Linked DNA regions of Homo sapiens. The protein of the gene in region 1 purifies or fractionates together with the protein of each later gene. This does not show direct contact. Each region holds a gene or a part of one and is shown in the gene's direction. Other genes may lie near its edges. The genes, in order: NUCB2, MGARP, CALU, SDF4, XPNPEP3 and NAE1.

Evidence for each region.
Region 2: the proteins of NUCB2 (region 1) and MGARP fractionate together in Homo sapiens (co-fractionation; one large-scale study listed by BioGRID). This does not show direct contact.
Region 3: the proteins of NUCB2 (region 1) and CALU fractionate together in Homo sapiens (co-fractionation; one large-scale study listed by BioGRID). This does not show direct contact.
Region 4: the proteins of NUCB2 (region 1) and SDF4 fractionate together in Homo sapiens (co-fractionation; one large-scale study listed by BioGRID). This does not show direct contact.
Region 5: the proteins of NUCB2 (region 1) and XPNPEP3 purify together in Homo sapiens (co-immunoprecipitation; one large-scale study listed by IntAct). This does not show direct contact.
Region 6: the proteins of NUCB2 (region 1) and NAE1 fractionate together in Homo sapiens (co-fractionation; one large-scale study listed by BioGRID). This does not show direct contact.

Annotation. Positions count from the first base shown.
Region 1 is NC_000011.10:17,328,739-17,332,711, forward strand, and holds the end of NUCB2 (nucleobindin-2 isoform 1 preproprotein), read left to right. Parts: intron 1-1,388; coding exon 1,389-1,559; intron 1,560-2,163; coding exon 2,164-2,245; intron 2,246-2,673; coding exon 2,674-2,681; 3' UTR 2,682-3,473; downstream 3,474-3,973. UniProt on the Homo sapiens protein: Calcium-binding protein which may have a role in calcium homeostasis. Acts as a non-receptor guanine nucleotide exchange factor which binds to and activates guanine nucleotide-binding protein (G-protein) alpha subunit GNAI3.
Region 2 is NC_000004.12:139,265,665-139,267,945, reverse strand, and holds the end of MGARP (protein MGARP), read left to right. Parts: intron 1-904; coding exon 905-1,347; 3' UTR 1,348-1,781; downstream 1,782-2,281. UniProt on the Homo sapiens protein: Plays a role in the trafficking of mitochondria along microtubules. Regulates the kinesin-mediated axonal transport of mitochondria to nerve terminals along microtubules during hypoxia.
Region 3 is NC_000007.14:128,763,359-128,766,858, forward strand, and holds part of CALU (calumenin isoform a precursor), read left to right. Parts: intron 1-3,500. UniProt on the Homo sapiens protein: Involved in regulation of vitamin K-dependent carboxylation of multiple N-terminal glutamate residues. Seems to inhibit gamma-carboxylase GGCX. Binds 7 calcium ions with a low affinity.
Region 4 is NC_000001.11:1,219,217-1,222,001, reverse strand, and holds part of SDF4 (45 kDa calcium-binding protein isoform 2 precursor), read left to right. Parts: intron 1-1,271; coding exon of another isoform or gene 1,272-1,303; exon of another isoform or gene 1,304-2,785. UniProt on the Homo sapiens protein: May regulate calcium-dependent activities in the endoplasmic reticulum lumen or post-ER compartment. Isoform 5 may be involved in the exocytosis of zymogens by pancreatic acini.
Region 5 is NC_000022.11:40,881,148-40,884,647, forward strand, and holds part of XPNPEP3 (xaa-Pro aminopeptidase 3), read left to right. Parts: intron 1-622; coding exon 623-1,030; intron 1,031-3,500. UniProt on the Homo sapiens protein: Catalyzes the removal of a penultimate prolyl residue from the N-termini of peptides, such as Leu-Pro-Ala. Also shows low activity towards peptides with Ala or Ser at the P1 position.
Region 6 is NC_000016.10:66,817,477-66,820,976, reverse strand, and holds part of NAE1 (NEDD8-activating enzyme E1 regulatory subunit), read left to right. Parts: intron 1-2,339; coding exon 2,340-2,449; intron 2,450-3,489; coding exon 3,490-3,500. UniProt on the Homo sapiens protein: Regulatory subunit of the dimeric UBA3-NAE1 E1 enzyme. E1 activates NEDD8 by first adenylating its C-terminal glycine residue with ATP, thereafter linking this residue to the side chain of the catalytic cysteine, yielding a NEDD8-UBA3 thioester and free AMP.

The DNA of each region.
Region 1 (3,973 bases):
TCCAAGAGCCAAGGCCTGGACTCAGGGACTCCAAAAGACTGCTTGTTGGTCTACCCCATTGTGGCTGAGCTGGTACCTAGGGTGCAAGACAAAAATCGCCTTTACTTTCCCTCTGCTTTCCTCAAACAGGGGTCTCTCGCCATAGCCACTACAGCTGGGAATGTGCTGGGTCACCCCGAAGCCAGCATGTCTCAGTCCAAGACCCACAGCATACTCCATGGGTCTTGCCGCTGATTATTCAGGGCCCAGGGGCTCTTTACTTAGCAAGTGATGAAGCCTGCCAGGACTGCTCCCTTAAGGCAGCAGTTTCCTTTTGGGCCAGCAGGGTATGTCTAGAAATGTCACCTGGGAGCTAGGGCCTGGAATCAGGTCCTCACAACTCTGCCTGGTGTCCTATCCTACTATGGCTTAGCTGGTATCCAAGATGCAAAACAAAGCCCTCTTTACTTTTTCCTCTCCTTTCCTCAAGAAAGGAGTCACTTTCATAGCCACAAGCTGCACTGCCTGAGGTTGGGGGAGGGGTAGCACAAGCGTTCCCTTAGCCTCACCAGCTGGTATCTCCCCTGGTCACCTGCTACCCTAGTTCACTGGCTCTAAGCCCAGCCTAGCACTAGGAGTTGCCTAGGAATTACAGTCCTCCTTTCCTAGACTGCCTTTCAAGTTTACCTAGGACCCCAGAGCACTTCAGCCCGCATGGTGAGGCCTGCCAGGAAATTCAGTGCCCATTGCTGGGATGGGTGATTCTCCTCTGGCTAGGGCTGCTTCAAATGCTCCTATGCATGGGCAGTGGTGGAGCCCAGCACAGCTTTATTCTCTGCTGTGACAGGGCAGCACTGAGTTCAATGTAAAGTCCCCCAGTCGCTATGCTCCCTCCCCAGAGGGCACAGACTCTCTGTGCTGCAGGTCTGCCACGAGGGAATGGGAGAGAGGTGGCATAGGTGATTCAAGACTGTCTCTTTTGCCCTTCTCAGTGTCTTTGCAGGTGATATGAAGTTGAAACCAGGTACTGTGAGTGCTCACCTGATGTTTGCTTCTTGTGCTTTTCTGTGTGCAGACAGCTGTTAAAATTTCATGTTTCAGTGAGGGTTGGGGGGAATGACAAATTTTATTTCTCTTCCCACGTTCTCTTTGCCTCTTCTACCCAGTTCTCACTCTTTGCCTTTAGTTGTCAATCCCAGAAGAGAATCTCTTGAGTTTTTCTTCCTGTTTTTCCTTTTGTTCAAATGAGTACATAAATATATATTACTTATTTCCCCTTCCTTCTTACCTCCAAAGGCGTAATCCTATAGATACTCTTTTATACTTTGCTAACCATAGAATTTTAAAGCTAAATCAGACTTTATTGTTGTAGTTTTGAGATTATTCTTTCCTCATTTTTTTTCTTTTAGACATTAGATCAGCAACAGTTCTTCACAGAGGAAGAACTAAAAGAATATGAAAATATTATTGCTTTACAAGAAAATGAACTTAAGAAGAAGGCAGATGAGCTTCAGAAACAAAAAGAAGAGCTACAACGTCAGCATGATCAACTGGAGGCTCAGAAGCTGGAATATCATCAGGTGGCATTTTGTCAAAAGATTATGGCATTAAAAAGATTTTAGGTGCTTTGTTAAAAGCCTGTGTTTTTGTAACATATTTCATTGTACTATATAGTACACTGCTATAGCTATACTATAGTATTTTAAATTTTAATACTTTAAAACTGTTTTGTGGAATATTAATCTAAATTTTATTTTATTTCATTTTATTTTATTTTGAGACAGCCTGTCTCCCAGGCTGGAGTATAGTGCTGTGATCATAGCTCACTGCAGCCTCAAACTCCTGGGCTCAAGTGATCCTCCCACCTCAGCCTCCCCAGTAGCTAGGACTACAGGTGCATGCCAGTGTTCCTGGCTAATGTTAATATTTTTTGTAGAGACCAGGTCTCATTGTGTTGCCGAGGCTGGTCTCGAACTCCTGGCCTTAAGTGATCTTCCCACCTGGGCCTCTGAAATTGTTGGGACTATAGGCGTGAGCCACTGCACCTAGTCAAATCTAAATCTTATAGTTTGAATATCTTTGTTTTAGAAAACAATTTTCATTTACTTTGTTGTGCTTTGTCAAAGGTCACACATATGATAGAAAATCAAGTTATACTTTTAACTTTCATTTTCCATTCACCAGGTCATACAGCAGATGGAACAAAAAAAATTACAACAAGGAATTCCTCCATCAGGGCCAGCTGGAGAATTGAAGTTTGAGCCACGTGTGTAATTTTGTTTGATTATTTATTTAGGAAAATAAATTATTTTATCAATTGAAATCCACATTTATTACAAATATAATTTCAAATCATTAAGATGTTATGTTATTTTTTGTGTATTTTTTGTGGTATTAGAGCAATTTAGATTATAGAAAAATGAAAATGCCTCCAAAAGTTTTATGTAGCAGCAAATTTTAAGTGCTGTATCATTTGTATAATTTGATAACCATATTTATGGTAAAATGATTTATTTCAACTTTATTTGTAATTCTTTCTAATTATATTAATCTTACCAGAGAATATGTTTTTTAAAATTGTGATCTATGATTAGCTAAGCATATTTTTTAAAACAAGTATATTTGTATATGAAGGAACATTTAGAATAAAGGAAGATACTTTTAAAATAAGAACTTTTTTCTTTTTTCCAACAGACATTTAAAGTCTGAAGTCCACCAGAACTTGGAAGAAAGCTGTTAACTCAACATCTATTTCATCTTTTTAGCTCCCTTCCTTTTTCTCTGCTCAATAAATATTTTAAAAGCATATTTGAAATAAAGGGAGATACTTTTTAAATGAAAACACTTTTTTTGGGACACAGATATTAAAGGATTGAAGTTTATCAGAACCAGGAAGAAAACAAACTCACTGTCTGCTCTCTGCTCTCACATTCACACGGCTCTTTTATTTATTTTTTTGTTCTCCTTTAATGATTTAATTAAGTGGCTTTATGCCATAATTTAGTGAAACTATTAGGAACTATTTAAGTGAGAAAACTCTGCCTCTTGCTTTTAAATTAGATTGCTCTCACTTACTCGTAAACATAGGTATTCTTTTATGGGTGCTTATCATTCCTTCTTTCAATAAATGTCTGTTTGATATTAACAATTCTGGAAAGGCCACAGTATTTCCCTGTGTTTCCTGGTAACGTTTTTCTAGTTTTGGCAACCTCAACTGCTAGAAATTCTTCACCTGAATCACTTTTGCTACCACTTCAGGTCATTTTTCATTCTTTTTTATTTTGCTCTATACTTTATCATTTAAGATTAGGTTATGTTACATATAACAGAAAAAACAAAGATAACAGTGGTTTAAACTAAATAGGAGTTTTTCTTCTTACATAAGTCTAGAAGTAGGTGGTGTCCAGGTTCCTATCTTTCTGCTCTGCTATCCTCAGTGCATGATTTTTATCCTCAGATTACCTCACTCTCACTGTTCAAGTTTGCTCCTGGAGGCAGTGGGGAAGGCAAGAAAACTGGACTTTCTCTGCTTGAGTTAGCTTCCCTGAGGCCATTTTCCAGAACCAGCAGCACCTGAACTTATGTTTCGACCAGAACTGGGTCACACTGATGGCCACACCTAGCTGCTAGGGAGGCTGAGAAGTCAATGTGGCAATGTGACCAGCTAAAAGTTGGATTCTTTTACTAAGGAAGAAGGGAAGAGGGAATGTTTGGTAGGCAACTTTGGATTTTAAACTCAGCCAGCCTTGTTGGCTACCTAAATTCTGTGTACCTTCTTCTTCCGAGAGAGAAAACACTCACCCCTCTCTCCCTGAAGAGAAACCACCAGAAATCCAGCCCATTATTGCATACTAGATGAAAGACCATGCTATCTGGAGACAGTCCCCTCCATCATGTTAGGGTGTGGCTCCTTGTGTTCTGGCCACCTACAAACTGAAAGACAAGTTTTCTGCCCTGAGAGCACCAGATGCATAATGCAAAGGTGCAGGAAAAC
Region 2 (2,281 bases), on another chromosome or scaffold:
GACAGGGTCTCACTATGTTGCCCAGGCTGGTCTTGATCTCCTGGCCTCATGTGATCCCTCCTGCCTCAGCCTCCCAAAGTGCTGGGATTACAGGCATATGCCACTATGCCTAGCCACTTCTTGCTTTAAACCATACTTTTTTCCAAGCTATTATTATCAATTACTATGATCACTATTTAGGGATAGAGATATTAGGGGCTTATGAATCAGTTTTAACCTGTCATGACAATAATAAGAAACAGAATATCATCAATACATATTATTGAATATAATCATGCGGTTGTTTATAATACTAATAAGCATTTGCATAGAACTTTTTATTTTAATCCCCTTTTCATATACAGTATTTTAATTAATCTTTACAATAACCCTGTGCAGTAGATATTATCAATACCCTATTTTACAGATGACAAAAATGAGATTGAGAGAGGATTAGTGATTTCTGAGTCACCAGCTAGGAACTTGGCTACTCTTCCATGCTGTCTCATATGAAAGGTGAATAGGATAGCTACTTATTTTTGTATTCTTCATATTTGCCTAAGTAATATATTCAAGTGTGTTTTTTTTTAAGTTCAAAGAGTTTACAGAAAAGCAGATCCCCCATTTTCCCTCCAAGAGGCAACCAATAGAACCAGTTTCTTGGAATCCTCCTGGAGAGTTTTTGCAAATACAATTATCTAGGCATACAACTTACCCCCCTCCTGCTCCAACCTCATTTTGCCCTAACAATAGTAGCAGACTGTATACATTGTTCTTTTTTTGCTGTTTCACTTGAGAGTCTACCTTGAAGACTGTTACACATCAGTGCATGTAGTTCTGTCTTAGGTGTTTAAACGACCGCAGTGTTTCATTGCCTTCCCACGATCTTTAAATTAATACCTTGCTTAATGACTAATTCTTAAAGGTGAAAAGGAGAATGTTGCGGAAACTGAGAAAGCAAGTTCAGAAGCCCCAGAAGAACTTATAGTGGAAGCTGAGGTGGTAGATGCTGAAGAAAGTCCCAGTGCTACAGTTGTGGTCATAAAAGAGGCATCTGCCTGTCCAGGTCACGTGGAGGCTGCTCCGGAGACCACAGCAGTCAGTGCTGAAACCGGGCCAGAGGTCACAGATGCAGCGGCGAGGGAAACCACGGAAGTAAACCCTGAAACAACCCCAGAGGTTACAAATGCTGCCCTGGATGAAGCTGTCACCATCGATAATGATAAAGATACAACAAAGAACGAAACCTCTGATGAATATGCTGAACTAGAAGAAGAAAATTCTCCAGCTGAGTCAGAGTCCTCTGCTGGAGATGATTTACAGGAGGAAGCCAGTGTTGGCTCTGAGGCTGCTTCGGCTCAAGGCTAATCTCCAGCCGGTAGACATTTCAGCAACAAATGCCATAGGGTGTCTGATAAGTGCTTTTGTGTTTTTAGTACACTTAGTTTAAAAAAAAAAAGACTTATTTTCTAGAAAACGTTAATGGGTCTTGAAGATTTTTGGCATCCACTGATAGATTTTAGGACTGAGAGACTTGAGATTGTACATTTCTTACTACTCTTCTACTGTCTGAGATCAGAATATGACATTGCAGTAAAGAGCTTAAATAGTTTCATCTTTGGTTTTTTTTTCTAGACACTTTTCTTTTATCCCAGTCATCTCTGAATTTACATTTTATATTAAAGAAATTGAGCTATCCATACAACCTGTATTTACTTTAATTTCACTATGCTTTCAGCTTACTTTATTGTATGATATGTAGGTCTAAAATATAGTTTGAGTCAAATAAAATTAGAAAAGCTTTGGTGCTTCTACTTTTTTCACTAATATTTGCATGTACAAATAATACATATTAACATACAGGTACATAACATCACATGAGAAATGTAGGCTTTCGTAATATTATTGAAGAAAGAGCATATAATCTATGGAGAACCCTGCATGTAACAATATGTATGCCCTCTCCCATCTATAGTACTTACACAGGGGACTATGTAGATATTTTCTGTTTCAGTTCAGTTCAAACAATATTTATTGAAGATTAGCACTTTGTGCCAGGAATCTTTCATTCATTCACGTGTTCAACAAATATTAGCTGAGCACTTACAACATAATAGGTATTGTTTTAAGTGCTCCCGGTTTATATTCTAGAGTGGAACCAGGTAAGAAGACAAATGAGAAAATGATATAGTGTGTTAGGTACTGATAAGTGCTAAGGATAAAAGTAACGAAAATAAAAGGATTGTAAGTGTTAGTCTGAGGTGGAAGTTGTAATTTTAGATAGGATGGCCAAAAGAGGCCT
Region 3 (3,500 bases), on another chromosome or scaffold:
TCTCTACTAAAAATATAAAAATTAGCCAGGTGTGGTGGCATGTGCCTGTGTAATCCCAGCTACTCAGGAGGCTGAGGCAGGAGAATCGCTTGAACCCAGGAGGCGGAGGTTGCAGTGAGCCGAGATCGCGCCACTGCACTCCAGCCTGGGCGACAGAGCAAGACTCTGTCTCAAAAAAATAAAGTAAAATAAATAAAAATAGAAATTCAAATAGTTTATCATGGTCACCTAGCTTTAAAATGCGCTTACGTTGTAGTGTATTGTGTATTCTAGCTTCCTTTAAAACCATATCTTTTAAGCATGTGTCTATTTCCTAATTCAGAACTTTCCAATCTGTATCCTGTGAGTAAGTCTTCTTGGCTTTCAGGACAGCTAGGGCAGGAACCTGATCCAGTGGACCGTACAAACTACATTTTCTGAATGTGCTGTAGCATGGGAAAAAATTGGCAAGTCCTGCTGTGAGGAATTTCTCTTGTGAGTTTAAGACAGAGGAGTACTTCTACCCTTAACCCTCAAGGTCAGGAAAATGGCAGCACTGACTAAATAATTACCTTTGCTTAGAACTTGCAGGAACTATTTAGATTTCTCTTTAGGTGTTTTCCCATACCTTACATGCAATGCAGGTACACTTAACTTAGATGTCGTATAACTCAAGCATTTTCAGACTTGTTCACTTAAATAACTCCTGAAAGAATTTGACCAACAGCATTCCCTTATGTGTTTTAAAGTTGGCATCTGAAATATTTAATTAAGAAATTTAAACAGTTGTAAAGAATAGTCTCTGTTGGGCCGGATGCCGTAGCTCATTCCTGTAATCCCAGAACTTTGGGAGGCTGAGGCAGGTGAATCACTTGAGCCCAGGAGTTTGAGAACAACCTGGACAACATGGCGCAACCCTGTCTCTACAAAAAATACAAAAAAAAAGAAAAAATTAGCCAGGCATGGTGGCGTGTGCCTGTAGTCCCAGCAACTCAGGAGGATCACTTGAGCCTGAGGGTTTGAGGTTGCAGTGCACCGTTATTGTACCACTGCACTCCAGCCTGGGCAACAGAGCAAGACCCTGTCTCAGAAGAAAAAAGAATAATCTCTGTTGGTGATAAGCATTGACATTTTGAAAGTAATTCGGAAAGAAATCTATAAAATTTAAATACAAGATACCATAGCAACTTCTTACCTGCCGTCTTTCATATGAATAATTTGGACACGACAACTTTAAAAAGATAATCAAGAAATTTAAATTCAGTCTGGGTATTAGATGATACCAAGGAATTGATTTTGTAAAATATGAAAGTGGCATTGTGGGTATATAAGAAAATATCCGTAATTTTTTACATTTCATAATAGTTAAAAAGGAAATGTTTCTTTGGTACTTTTTTTTTTTTAGTTATGGCGTTTGGTTAGCAACAATGTGACCATCACTTAATTGCCCTTTTTTTTGTTTAAATTTATAGGGATTTGGGGATATTTATACTACTTATCAGTCACCACATGATATTGTCTTAAAAAAATAAATGAATAAACTGTTAACCAACTTGGACATTTTACACGCATCCTGTTTCTTCTTCTTCTTCTTTTTTAAAAAGACAAGAGTCTCATTCTGTTGCCCATGTTGGTGTGCAGTGGCACAATCACAGCAGCCTCGATCTCCAAGGTGGGGAGATCAAGTGATCCTCTCACCTCAGCTGGGACCACAGAAGAGCACCACCACACCCAGCTGATTTTTTTTATTATTATTCTTATAGACATGGGTCTCCCTACATTGCCCAGGCTGGTCTGGAAATCCTGGGCTCAAGAGCTCTACCTGCCTTGGCCTCCCAAAGTGCTGGGATTACAGACATCAGCCACCCGACCTCCTGTTTCTTTTTTTTCTTTTTCTTTTTGAGACAGGGTCTCACTCTGTCACCTAGGCTGGAGTGCAGTGGCATGATCATGGTTCATTGCAGCCTCGATCTGCTAGGCTCAAGCCATCCTCCTGCCTCAGCCTCCCGAGTAGCTGGGACTGTAGGTGCATGCTGCCATGCCTGGCTAATTTTTGTATTTCTTGTAGGGATTTTGCCATGTTGTCCAGGCTGATCTCAAACTCACAAGTCAGCCTTCTATTTGTTAGATTCATTTGCAGTTTACTTCCTCAACAGAATTATATTCTGACATATTTTATCTTGAAGCCTTAGTCACTTTGACATTCTTATTTGCAAGAACATTGTGTATGTAAATTGAAATATGGAAAATGGTGTTCTGTGATATGGCTCTTAAGTGTTTTTAGAGTCTTCTGTGTTAAGTTACTATTACAATTATTAATACACAATTGAACAAAATAACATTTATTACAGACGTTTTATGTTTATATATTTTTAAATGCATTTCTTTGACACATTTTTATTCAAATAGTTTCATATCCATGGATGACAATTACTTATCCCTAGAGTGAAATGGGATTCAGCACCAATTCCTAATTTTTATTTTTTAGAGGAAGTACTAACAGACCTTGTTTACATTAGTAAATAAGTTGATGGAAGATTTGTCATAGCAATATTGCTTAGTTCTTGGAACTCCTTTTGAGTTACATGCCAGAAATCATGTAATCTATCATCAAAAATTATGGGTTTTGTTTGTTTCAAGGTGGAGTCTCTCTCTCTCACCCAGGCTGTAGTACACAGGCACGGTCTCGGCTCATTGCAACCTCTGCCTCTGGGGTTCAAGCGATTCTCCTGCCTCAGCCTCCCCAGTAGCTGGAGATTACAGGTGTGGGCCAGCACGCCCGGCTAATTTTATTTTTTATTTTTAGTAGAGACGGGGTTTCACCATGTTGGCCATGCTGGTCTCAAACTCCTGACCTCAAGTGATCCACCCGCCTCAGCCTCCCAAAGTGCTGGGATTACAGGCATGAGCCACTGCACCCAGCCCAAAAATTATGTTTAATGATCCCTTAGCTAAAACTCAATTAGGCCATTTTTCAAGGTTTTTTTTTTTAAAGCAAAGAATTTAAAACCTTTTGACATGCAAACGAATTTATTCATTTTTTTTCAGGCATTTGCATTCTCAAGACTGACACTAGTATTTCTTTTTCTTTTTTTTTTTTTTTTTTTTTGAGACGGAGTCTTGCTCTGTCGCCCAGGCTAGAGTGCAGTGATATGATCTCGGCTCACTGCAACCTCTGCCTCCTGGGTTCAAGTGATTCTTTTGCCTCAGCCTCTCGAGTAGCTGGGATTACAGGCACGCACCACCATGCTCAGCTAATTTTTGTATTTTTAGTAGAGATGGGGTTTTGCCATTTTGGCCAGGCTGGTCTCAAATTCCTGACCTCAGGTGATCTGGTCTCAAACTCCGACCTCAGGTGATCTGCCTGCCTAGGCCTCCCAAAGTGCTGGAATTACAGGTGTGAGCCACCACGCCCATCCAGACACTAGTATTTCTAATTGTTTCTTTTTCATTATCTTGGAGCTTTTTACACTCTAGTTTCAAAATGGTTGAAAATATGCCTTTCTTTTATAAAGTGGGAC
Region 4 (2,785 bases), on another chromosome or scaffold:
ACACATTTCCTCACCAGAGTCTCAAGGCAAACCACCTCTTCTTTCTTTTTTCATGAGACGGTCTCACTCTGCTACCCAGCCTGCAGTGCAGTGGTGCAGTCTCGGCTCCCTGCAGCTGTACCTTCCAGGGCTCAGGCGATCCTCCTACCTCAGAAGCTGGGACCACAGGCACCATCACCGCGCCTGGCTAATTTTTGTATTTTTTGTACGGATAGATTCTGCCGTGTTGGCCGGGTTGGTCTCAAACTCTTGGACTTAAGTCATCCGCCTACTGCAGTCTCCCAAAGTGCTGGGATTATAGGCGTGAGCCACTGCGCCTAGTCTTAGCCTCTTTCTTTTTTTAATTTTTAATTTTTAATTGTTTAAGAGTGAGGGCCTCACTGTTGCCCAGGCTGGAGTGCAGTGGTGCGATCTCAGCTCACCTGTAGCCTCCACATCCTGGGCTCAATCTATCCTCCTTGGAGGACAGAAAAATAAAGGTGTAAGATACGTTCCTGCCAGGAACGGCCCATATCATGTGACCAGCCCCCATGGGGGCGGCCTCCTGAGTGACTGGGACCACCAGTGTGTGCCACCATGCCCAGCTGATTCAAAAACATATATTTTGTAGACACAAGGTCTCCCCATGTTGCCTAGGTAGGTCTCAAACTCTTGGATTTCAGAGGGTTCAAGTGACCCGCTCGGCCTCCCCCCGTCCTGGGGTTGCAGGCGCGAGTGACCCGCCTGCCTTGGCCTCTCCCCATCCTGGGGTTGCAGGCATGAGCCCCTGTGCCTGGCCTTGACCTTCTAGAATGACGCGGAGACTTTTGAGCCTGTTGGCTCTGCCTGCTCTTTTCCCAGTTCACGTACTCTTATCTGGAGTTTGGTCCTGTCCGTTCTAAATCCTGCAAATTGGACATTAAAAAAACTAAAAGTAAGAGGATCTCCCTGTGTTGCCCAGGCTGGTCTCAAAGTCCTGGGCTAAAGGGATCTGCCTGCCGCAGCCTCCCAGCATGCCGGGATTACAGGCACAAGCCCCAGTGCCCGGCCAAATTGGACGTTATTACTTCCTTTCCAAAAGAGTGGTTTACATTTTCCTCCCCACACACGGTTCGTGCCTCCACCCCGGTCCCGCGTTCCCTGCTGTCCTGACTGCGTCTTTAAGCTTCATCCCGTTGGTCCGGCCTGTTGGCGATGTGCTTGGGGCAGGAGGCCTTGCCCGTGCCCGCCCCCCAACTCTGATTGTGTCTGTCTTTCCTTGGTGCCACTTTATTTGGGTCTTTTCTGCCCAGGACATGGCCCACCTGGACCTAGAGCTCTGTGACATTTCTGTGAAGCCTCCGTCTACCTTTGGGACTCAGCAGAGGTGTGTTTAGAATTCACTCTGCGTTTTGGGGGTCCCCATGCATGCTGAGGTGCTGTTCCCTGCCCACCCGTGTCCGATCCGTCTTGGCCTCCCCGACCTCAGGGTGCCTAGGACCCCCCGACCTCTTTGGGTATTTGGTTTCTGGCTCAGGAAGAGCAGCTGCCGGGTCCTGGAGGAGGGGCCTGGGAAGCGCTGGCAGGCGTCACTCCTGCGACCTCCCACCCCTCCCTGCATGGCTCCTGCGAGGGTCACCGCGTGAGTCCGGGGGCTGCTGTCCTCGCGCCTCAGACCTGATTCTGGGGACCGCGGTGAAGGCGTGGCAGGCGGGCATCACTCCCTTCCCCCGCCTCCATCGCTGCCTCTCTCTGGGTCTGCGTCCTCTTCTCACAGGGACAGCAGTCGTTGACTCTCCCTGATCCAGGAGGGTCTCTCCAGATCCTTCCCTAACAGCAGAGGCCCGGCTCGTGGGGAGGGACTGGGACTCAAGGCTTCTTCACCAGCCTGAGGTTGGTGCTGGGGCTCGGCGGCGGCTGTGAGAATCCTGTGCTGGAGAAAGCGTCTCTCGGCCGGCCTGTCTGGGGCGTCTGTGCCTCTCCTGGATGGGTCTCAGTTTGGCCCCGTCCATCCATCCCAGGAGCTGCGGTGGAGCAGACAGGGAGGGGTGCCCCAGGAACCACAGCCCCGTCACTCCTGTCTTCCTTTAAGTGAACCGGTCGTGTAGATGGAGGTTGTTCAGAAAGGGATAAGATGGGACGGCAGCTGGGCCTCATCCCGCAGTGAGCGCGACGCAGAGGCTGCCGGGCTTGTGGCAGGGGCTTCGGCCAGGGCAGAGTCGGGCCTCACGTGCAGGGGGCTGAGTGTGGGCCTCAACACTGGACTTGGCCACTGACTGCAGTGAGCCCCAAGATGGGGCAGGAGGTGGTGTTTCTGTCCTGGAGACCCAGGGTGGCTTGGGTCCTTGGGATGTGTGGGGACCTCGGGGTGAGGGCCCGTTGGGGCCGGGTGGGCACGGCAGGAGAGCGGGGGCCACACACCCAGAGGCAGTGCCGTGTCCCGGCTGGGAGGGTTCCTGGGAAGCTCTGCTCAGCCCCAGTCTCAGTCATTTCTAGAAACTGTGTTTTCCTCCCTGTGACGTCACACGTGAAGGAAACGGAAAAGGGCAGTGAGTCCTTCGCCCCGCGGCGCCGTGCGCACGTCAGCCTTCAGGGTGATTCCGCTCCTCCAGAGGGGCAGGCGCGGGTGTGGGGGGTGGGGCCCAGGCCCATCCTGAGGGGTCCCAGGCATGAGGGGCTCTGAGCTGTGTCCTGGGGTGGTCTGGGCCATGGGGAGGTTCTGGATCATGTCTTGAGAGGTCTGGGCTGTGTGGGGGGTCCAGGCCATGTCCTGGGGGTCTGGGCTGTGTCTGTGGGGAGTCAGGGCCATCCATGTATTGGGGGTCTG
Region 5 (3,500 bases), on another chromosome or scaffold:
CGATTCTCCTGCCTCAGGCTCCCGAGTAGCTGGGATTACAGGCATGCACCACCACACATGGCTAATTTTTGTGTTTTTTTTAGTAGAGATGAGGTTTTACCATGTTGGCCGGGCTGGTCTTGAACTCCTGACCTCAGGTGATCTGCCTGCCTTGGCCTCCCAAAGTGCTGGGATTTCAGGCGTGAACCACCTCAGCTAGTCGGGAGGCTGAAGTGGGAGAATTGCTTGAGCCTGAGAGGCAGAGGTTTCAGTGAGCCGAGATCATGCCACTGCACTCCAGCCTGGGCAACAAGAGCGAAACTCTGTCTCAAAAAAAAAAAAAAAATTATATTCAATGAATATAACTGAGTGAGTAAAAGAATGAGCCAAAGACCTGGAAGAGATCTAAGGGGTCCATGATTCCAGATTTCAGGCGGGGCCACATTCAACTATCATTTCTTCCAAATTTTTGCAGTGGAATACAAGTTTGAAACCTGGTTATCTCCTTAATTCTCCATGTGCTGTGAGGAGATTTGGCATAAATTGAACAATTGGACTTGAGTATTTCCATCTAATATTAAACTACCTTAAGTACTTTGGCACTGCAGAAATGTAAAGCATCCCTTTTATTTGTCATTTCTAGGGGAGGTAACTCCAGGACTATCTCAGGTGGAATATGCACTTCGCAGACACAAACTAATGTCTCTGATCCAGAAGGAAGCTCAAGGGCAGAGTGGGACAGACCAGACAGTGGTTGTGCTCTCCAACCCTACATACTACATGAGCAACGATATTCCCTATACTTTCCACCAAGACAACAATTTCCTGTACCTATGTGGATTCCAAGAGCCTGATAGCATTCTTGTCCTTCAGAGCCTCCCTGGCAAACAATTACCATCACACAAAGCCATACTTTTTGTGCCTCGGCGAGATCCCAGTCGAGAACTTTGGGATGGTCCGCGATCTGGCACTGATGGAGCAATAGCTCTAACTGGAGTAGACGAAGCCTATACGCTAGAAGAATTTCAACATCTTCTACCAAAAATGAAAGGTAACAAATGGGAGCAGAAGTCACATTACAAACCAGATTGGGATTAAAACCTTTCTTGCCTGTTTAGACAAGTCCTTAATTTTGTTATCGTAGCACCACCATGAAAAGACCATGAGCACCATGAAAGAAATGTAAAGTCTTTTTCAGAAGATTGAGCTTCTTTAAAGATTTCATTTATGCCTGGTGCATTGGCTCACGCCCGTAATCCCAGCACTTTGGGAGGCCGAGGCAGACAGGTTCCTTGTGGCCAGGAGTTCAAGACCAACCTGGCCAACATGGCGAAACCCCGTCTCTACTAAAAATAGAAAAATTAGCCAGGCATGGTCGCAGGCGCCTGTAATCCCAGCTACTCAGGTGGCTCAGGCAGGAGAATCACTTGAGCCCGGGAGGTGGAGGTTGCAGTGATCCGAGATCATGCCACTGCATTCCAGCCTAGGCAACAAAGCAAGACTGTCTTAAAAAAAAAAAAAGATTCATTTATTCATTTGCAGGAGGTTACAGTGAGCCAGTGAGCTAAGATCCCGCCACTGCACTCCAGCCTAGGCGACAGAGCAAGACTCCATCTCAAAAAAAATAATAAAATGAAAGTATATAATTTAAGAGTTTTTGGTATAGTCATAGAATTGTGCAACCATCACCACAATGAATTTTAGAACATTTCAATTAAAAAAAAACTCCATGTTCACTGGATTATTCATTAATGGAGACTGTTACCTATCCTAGTTTGAAATCTCACAGAGAATTTTCTTTTAAAGCAAAGGATAAGCCAGACACAGTGGTGTACGTCTGTAGTCCAGCTACTGGAGAGGCTGAGGTAGAAGGATCGCTTGAGGCCAGGAGTTCAGGTCCAGACTGCACAACGTAGTGAGACCCCATCTCCAAAAAATAAATAAATTAAGGACAGGATGGGCATGGACCACTCTTCAAGATTACTGACCAGCTTCTTGATATTTGACAACTACTTCTTATCTTAGTGCTCTTGCCAGCTCTTCAAAAGGAGGTACTGTTCTCCAAGAACGATCCATGCATCACAGCATCAGAATCACCTGGTAATGCATATTAAAATTAAAAATGCATAATATGTAATAGAAATTAAAATCTCAGGCCTCCATCCCCTATCTACTGAATCAGAATCTGCATTTTAACAGATCTTTTGTGGTTCATATACAGTTGAGTTCTTTTTTTGTTTTTTTTTAGGCAGGGTCTCACTCTGTCACCCAGGTTGGGATGTAGGTATAGTGGCACACTCATGGCTCACTGCAACCTCGAACCCCAAAGCTCAAGCAGTCTTCCTGCCTCAGCCTCCAGAATACTGGGACTACCTGGGCACACCACTATGTCTGGCTAATTTTTTTTTATTTTTTTGTAGAGATGGAGTTTCACTTTGTTGCCTAGGCTGGTTTTGAACTCCTGGCCTCAAGTGAGCCTCCCACCTCAGCCTCCTGAAGTGCTGGGATTACAGGTGTGAGGCACCGTGCCTGGCCATAGTTGAGTTCTTGTCCCTCAAAGAAATTACTTTCTCTACAGTTATTCTGGTGAAATTTTAATCAATCCGAATGTTTTGAGATTTTTCTTCTGGGAATTTTTTCAGAACCTACACCACATTATAAACTATCTTTAGTAATTCTTAAAAAACTTTAGCTCTGGGAAGTATTTTATTTTTTGAAGTATCTTATTTGGAAAATAAGATAGATGCTCAAGTTTAAAAATACTGATTTTAGGTCAAGATAATGTATAATTATAAAGTTTTTGTTTGATTTTTCTTACATGGGTTACAAATCATATCTGAAGTTAGCTTCTAAAAGAGAATTCCAAAAATGTTTTTCACAATCATAAAATATATTAGACTGTTTCCTGTAAAGCCTCTTTTGGAAGAAAATACTCATTTGAATATGTAAGTTCTAATACATTTGATTAAATTCTTTTTATTTATAGAAATGTTTTCCATTTTATAGATAATTAGCCTGTTCAATTCATTGAACTTTCTTATGTCTTCAAAATCCACATAAATGTGGGGCATAGAATCATTTTCTTTCTAGCTTTTTTCTTACATTAGTTGCTACTTGTCATGTTCTACTGTCTAAGTTTTATTAATTCAGTATAGTTACAATCTCATGTAAAATAAATTTCTCAAAAGTACTTCTCGGTCACCATTCCTTTTTTTTTTTTTTTGAAACAGAATTTCGCTCTTGCCCAGGCTGGAGTGCAATGGCACCATCTCGGCTCACTGCAACTCCTGCCTCCCAGGTTCAAGTAATTCTCCTGCCTCAGCCTCCCGTGTAGCTGGGGTTACAGGCACGCGCCACCATGCCCGGGGAATTTTTCTGTTTTTTTTTAGTAGAGACAAGGTTTTACCATGTTAGTCAGGCTGGTCTCGAACTCCTGACCTCAGGTGATCCACCCCCCTCAGCCTCCCAGGGTGCTGGGATTACAGGCGTGAGCCACCGTGCCTGGCTAAAATCATATTTAT
Region 6 (3,500 bases), on another chromosome or scaffold:
CTGCCTCAGCCTCCCAAGTATCTGGGATTACAGGCACCCGCCACCATGCCCAGCTAATTTTTTTTTTTTTTTTTTTGAGACGGAGTCTCTCTCTTTTGCTCAGGCTGGACTGCAGTGGCGCGATCTTGGCTCACTGCTACCTCCACCTCCCGGGTTCACGCCATTCTCCTGCCTCAGCCTCCCGAGTAGCTGGGACTACAGGCGCCCGCCACCGTGCCCGGCTAATTTTTTGTATTTTTAGTAGAGATGGGGTTTCACCATGTTAGCCAGGATGGTCTCAATCTCCTGACCTCGTGATCTGCCCGCCTTGGCCTCCCAAAGTGCTGGGATTACAGGCGTGAGCCACCGCACCCGGCCGCCCAGCTAATTTTTTGCATTTTTAGTAGAGACAGGATTTCACCATGTTGGCCAGGCTGGTCTCGAACTCCTGACCTCAGGTGATCCACCCGCCTTGGCCTCCCAAGGTGCTGGGATTACAGGTGTGAGCCACTGCACCAGGTCCGTCCAATCTTTTATTTCATTCTCATGCAGGCTTTAGGTTCTCTCAATTCAGGTGCAATTTCACACAACAAAGACATTTACATAACTACTGTTCCCAAGGAAACTGTTGTAAGAGACCAAAGTCGTTTATAGGCAGACCTCCATCAGCTGAGGGTTTATATAAGCCCTTTACTTATAAAATTTTAATCTTAGATGATCATAAAATTTTCATCCAGTATTCAAAACAGTGCTCTTTATTGACTCAAGAAAACATTTTTACTATGAGCCAAGCACTCTGCTAATGTGGTGATAGCCATTGGCATTGGTAGCATCACTGAGGAGTAATATCTGTGTGGGCAGTTAGGGAGTGCTTGTCAGGATAAGCTCTGGCTGCTGGTGGTGAGCCATTTAAGAGTTGAAAGTGGTGTCAACTGATGGGAGGGAACAAAAGAGTTGAAAGTGGGAGAGTGACCATGTAAACATTTTATTTTAAATGGGTCACTTTGAAGTTGAGTGGAAAGTAAATGGATTTAAAGGGGCAAAGATTGGAGGCAGTGATTGCTGTTAGAAATTTCCAGTGGCCTAAGTAAGAGAGAGTGTGTTCTTTTTCCTAATTTAGGGAAGAGAAGAAGAGAGGGTAGATAATAATGAAGGTTCAGCATTACTAGTTGTGTGCCTGCCTTTATAAGAATTATTTCATTTACTCTTTCCAAAACCTTTATAAGGTACAGATTGAGTATCCTTAATCCAAAAATCCAAAATCAGAAATGCTCCAAAATGCAAAACTTTTTGAGAACTGACATAATATTCAAAGGAAACACTCATTGGAACATTTCTTACTTCAGATTTTTGGGTTAGAGAGCTCATCTAATATGTATTTGCAAATATACCAAAAACTCAACAAAATCCAAAACACTTATGGTCCCAAGCATTTTGGATAAGAGAGATATACAATCTGTAGATACTTTAATATCTGCTTTTTATAGATGATGCTGAGGCAATGAGAGATTAAATTATTTGCCTAAGGTCACATAGTTAGCAAGTGACAGAACTGGGCCTACCTCTAAGCACTCACTGAAATTATACACTCTCCTGTCCTCTCTCATGTGGAGAGCAGTGTACAGAGTGAGATTAGGAAGTGGGGAGTTACTGATGTTGGGGCCAAGGAAGCAAGAAGTGAAGGATGCCCATCAGGTTTCTGGAGAAGAAGTCTAGGTAGATGGTGATGCTGTCTATTGAAGACCACAAGAGGAGGAAGGATAGGTTGTTAGTTGCTATCTGTACCTAGGGTTTGTCAATGTTGAGCTTTTCCAGTTAGAACAAATTGTGTTCTAAAGGAATCTTGGTTTTACTTTTACTAAAACTTTATAGTTGACTTAAGATTTCTGCATTTTACTATATGTAAATCGTACCTTAATAAAACAGTGAAAAAACCTGTGGGCCCTGTGTCCATTTAAAAATTAAAGATTTCCTAAGTTTCTATAATTCAATGTATTGTCATCAGTATTGCCAAAGAATTAAGTTTATCTTTTGAGCTGGGCACGGTGGCTCACACCTGTAATGCAAGGACTTTGGGAGGCCGAGGCAGGAGGAGCCCTTGAATCCAGGAGTTTGAGACTAGCCTGGGTGACATAGTGAGACCCTATCCCTACAAAAAAATTAGCTGGGCACAGTGACACGAGACTGTAGTCCCACCTTCTCAGGAGGCTGAGGTGGGAGGATCCCTTCAGCCCAGGAGTTTCAGCAGTGAGCTGTGATTGTGCCACTGTACTTCAGCCTGGGTAATACAGCAAGACCCCATCTCTCTCTTTTTTTTTTTTAAGTGTTAAATTTATCCTTTTGAATTCTTTGTTTCACAGTAATAGAATCTCATCCAGATAATGCATTAGAGGATCTACGACTAGATAAGCCATTTCCTGAACTGAGAGAACATTTTCAGTCCTATGATTTGGATCATATGGAAAAAAAGGTTGGTAGTGTGTGTGACCTTACATTTACAGATAGACTTAAAACATTTTTTTAACCTAAGGTTTTTGAATTACACTAAAGTGAGAAAATCCTATAAACTTCCATATTCCTGTCATCCCGATTACCCAATAACAGTATTTTACCTTGTTTTCAACATATTAATTTTTCTCCAAAATTAAAAAACTTTTTTACTGAAGAAAAGTACATATACTGAACATCTGTGTAATCACTACCCAGGTCAAGAAATTGGACATTAACCTATTCCAGGTGGGGAGATGGGGATGGTTAATGGGTACCAAAAAAAAATTAGAAAGAATAAATAAGATTTACTCCTTGAAAGCACAACAAGGTGACTATAGTTAGTAATAACAACTCAGTTATACATTTTAAAATAATTAAAAGAGTTTAATTGGATTATTTGTAACATAAAGGATAAACGCTTGAGGGGATAAATGCTATACAGATACCCCATTCTCCATGATGTGCTTATTTCACATTGCATGCCTGTATCAAAGCATGTACCCCATAAATATATACACCTAAGTACCCACAAAAATTGAAAGTAAAAAATTTTAAAACAAAAAACAGAAATAAAAAAATTCCAAGAAGTTCTCTTTATGGACTTTTTCTAAACAAATAGAAATAATGACATAACACTATAAGGCGTATATGTATTTTTTCCCACTTCCATATTAATTAACATGCAGTTGCTTATTTGGTTCATCAGAAAACAGAAAAGATCCTCCTTTCTTACTTAGGATTGGTGTCTGAAATTGAGATTTGAGCTGTGTTTTTGGGTGGCAGTCTCTGAGACTGTTTTGCTGGTATAATGGGGACAATCATAGTATATATGTGACATACTAGGTATCTGCCTCTAGAAAAATTTGTAAAGCAGTTTTTATTAACTCAGTTCATTTTCGTCTATTCACTACTCTGCATATATTAGGAGATCATAAATATTGTTGAATTTGTTGAAAACGAGATGGTACAGTGAAGAATTCATAATACTGATATTTTCTTTTATTTGTCTCTCATTTTTAGGACCACAGTCA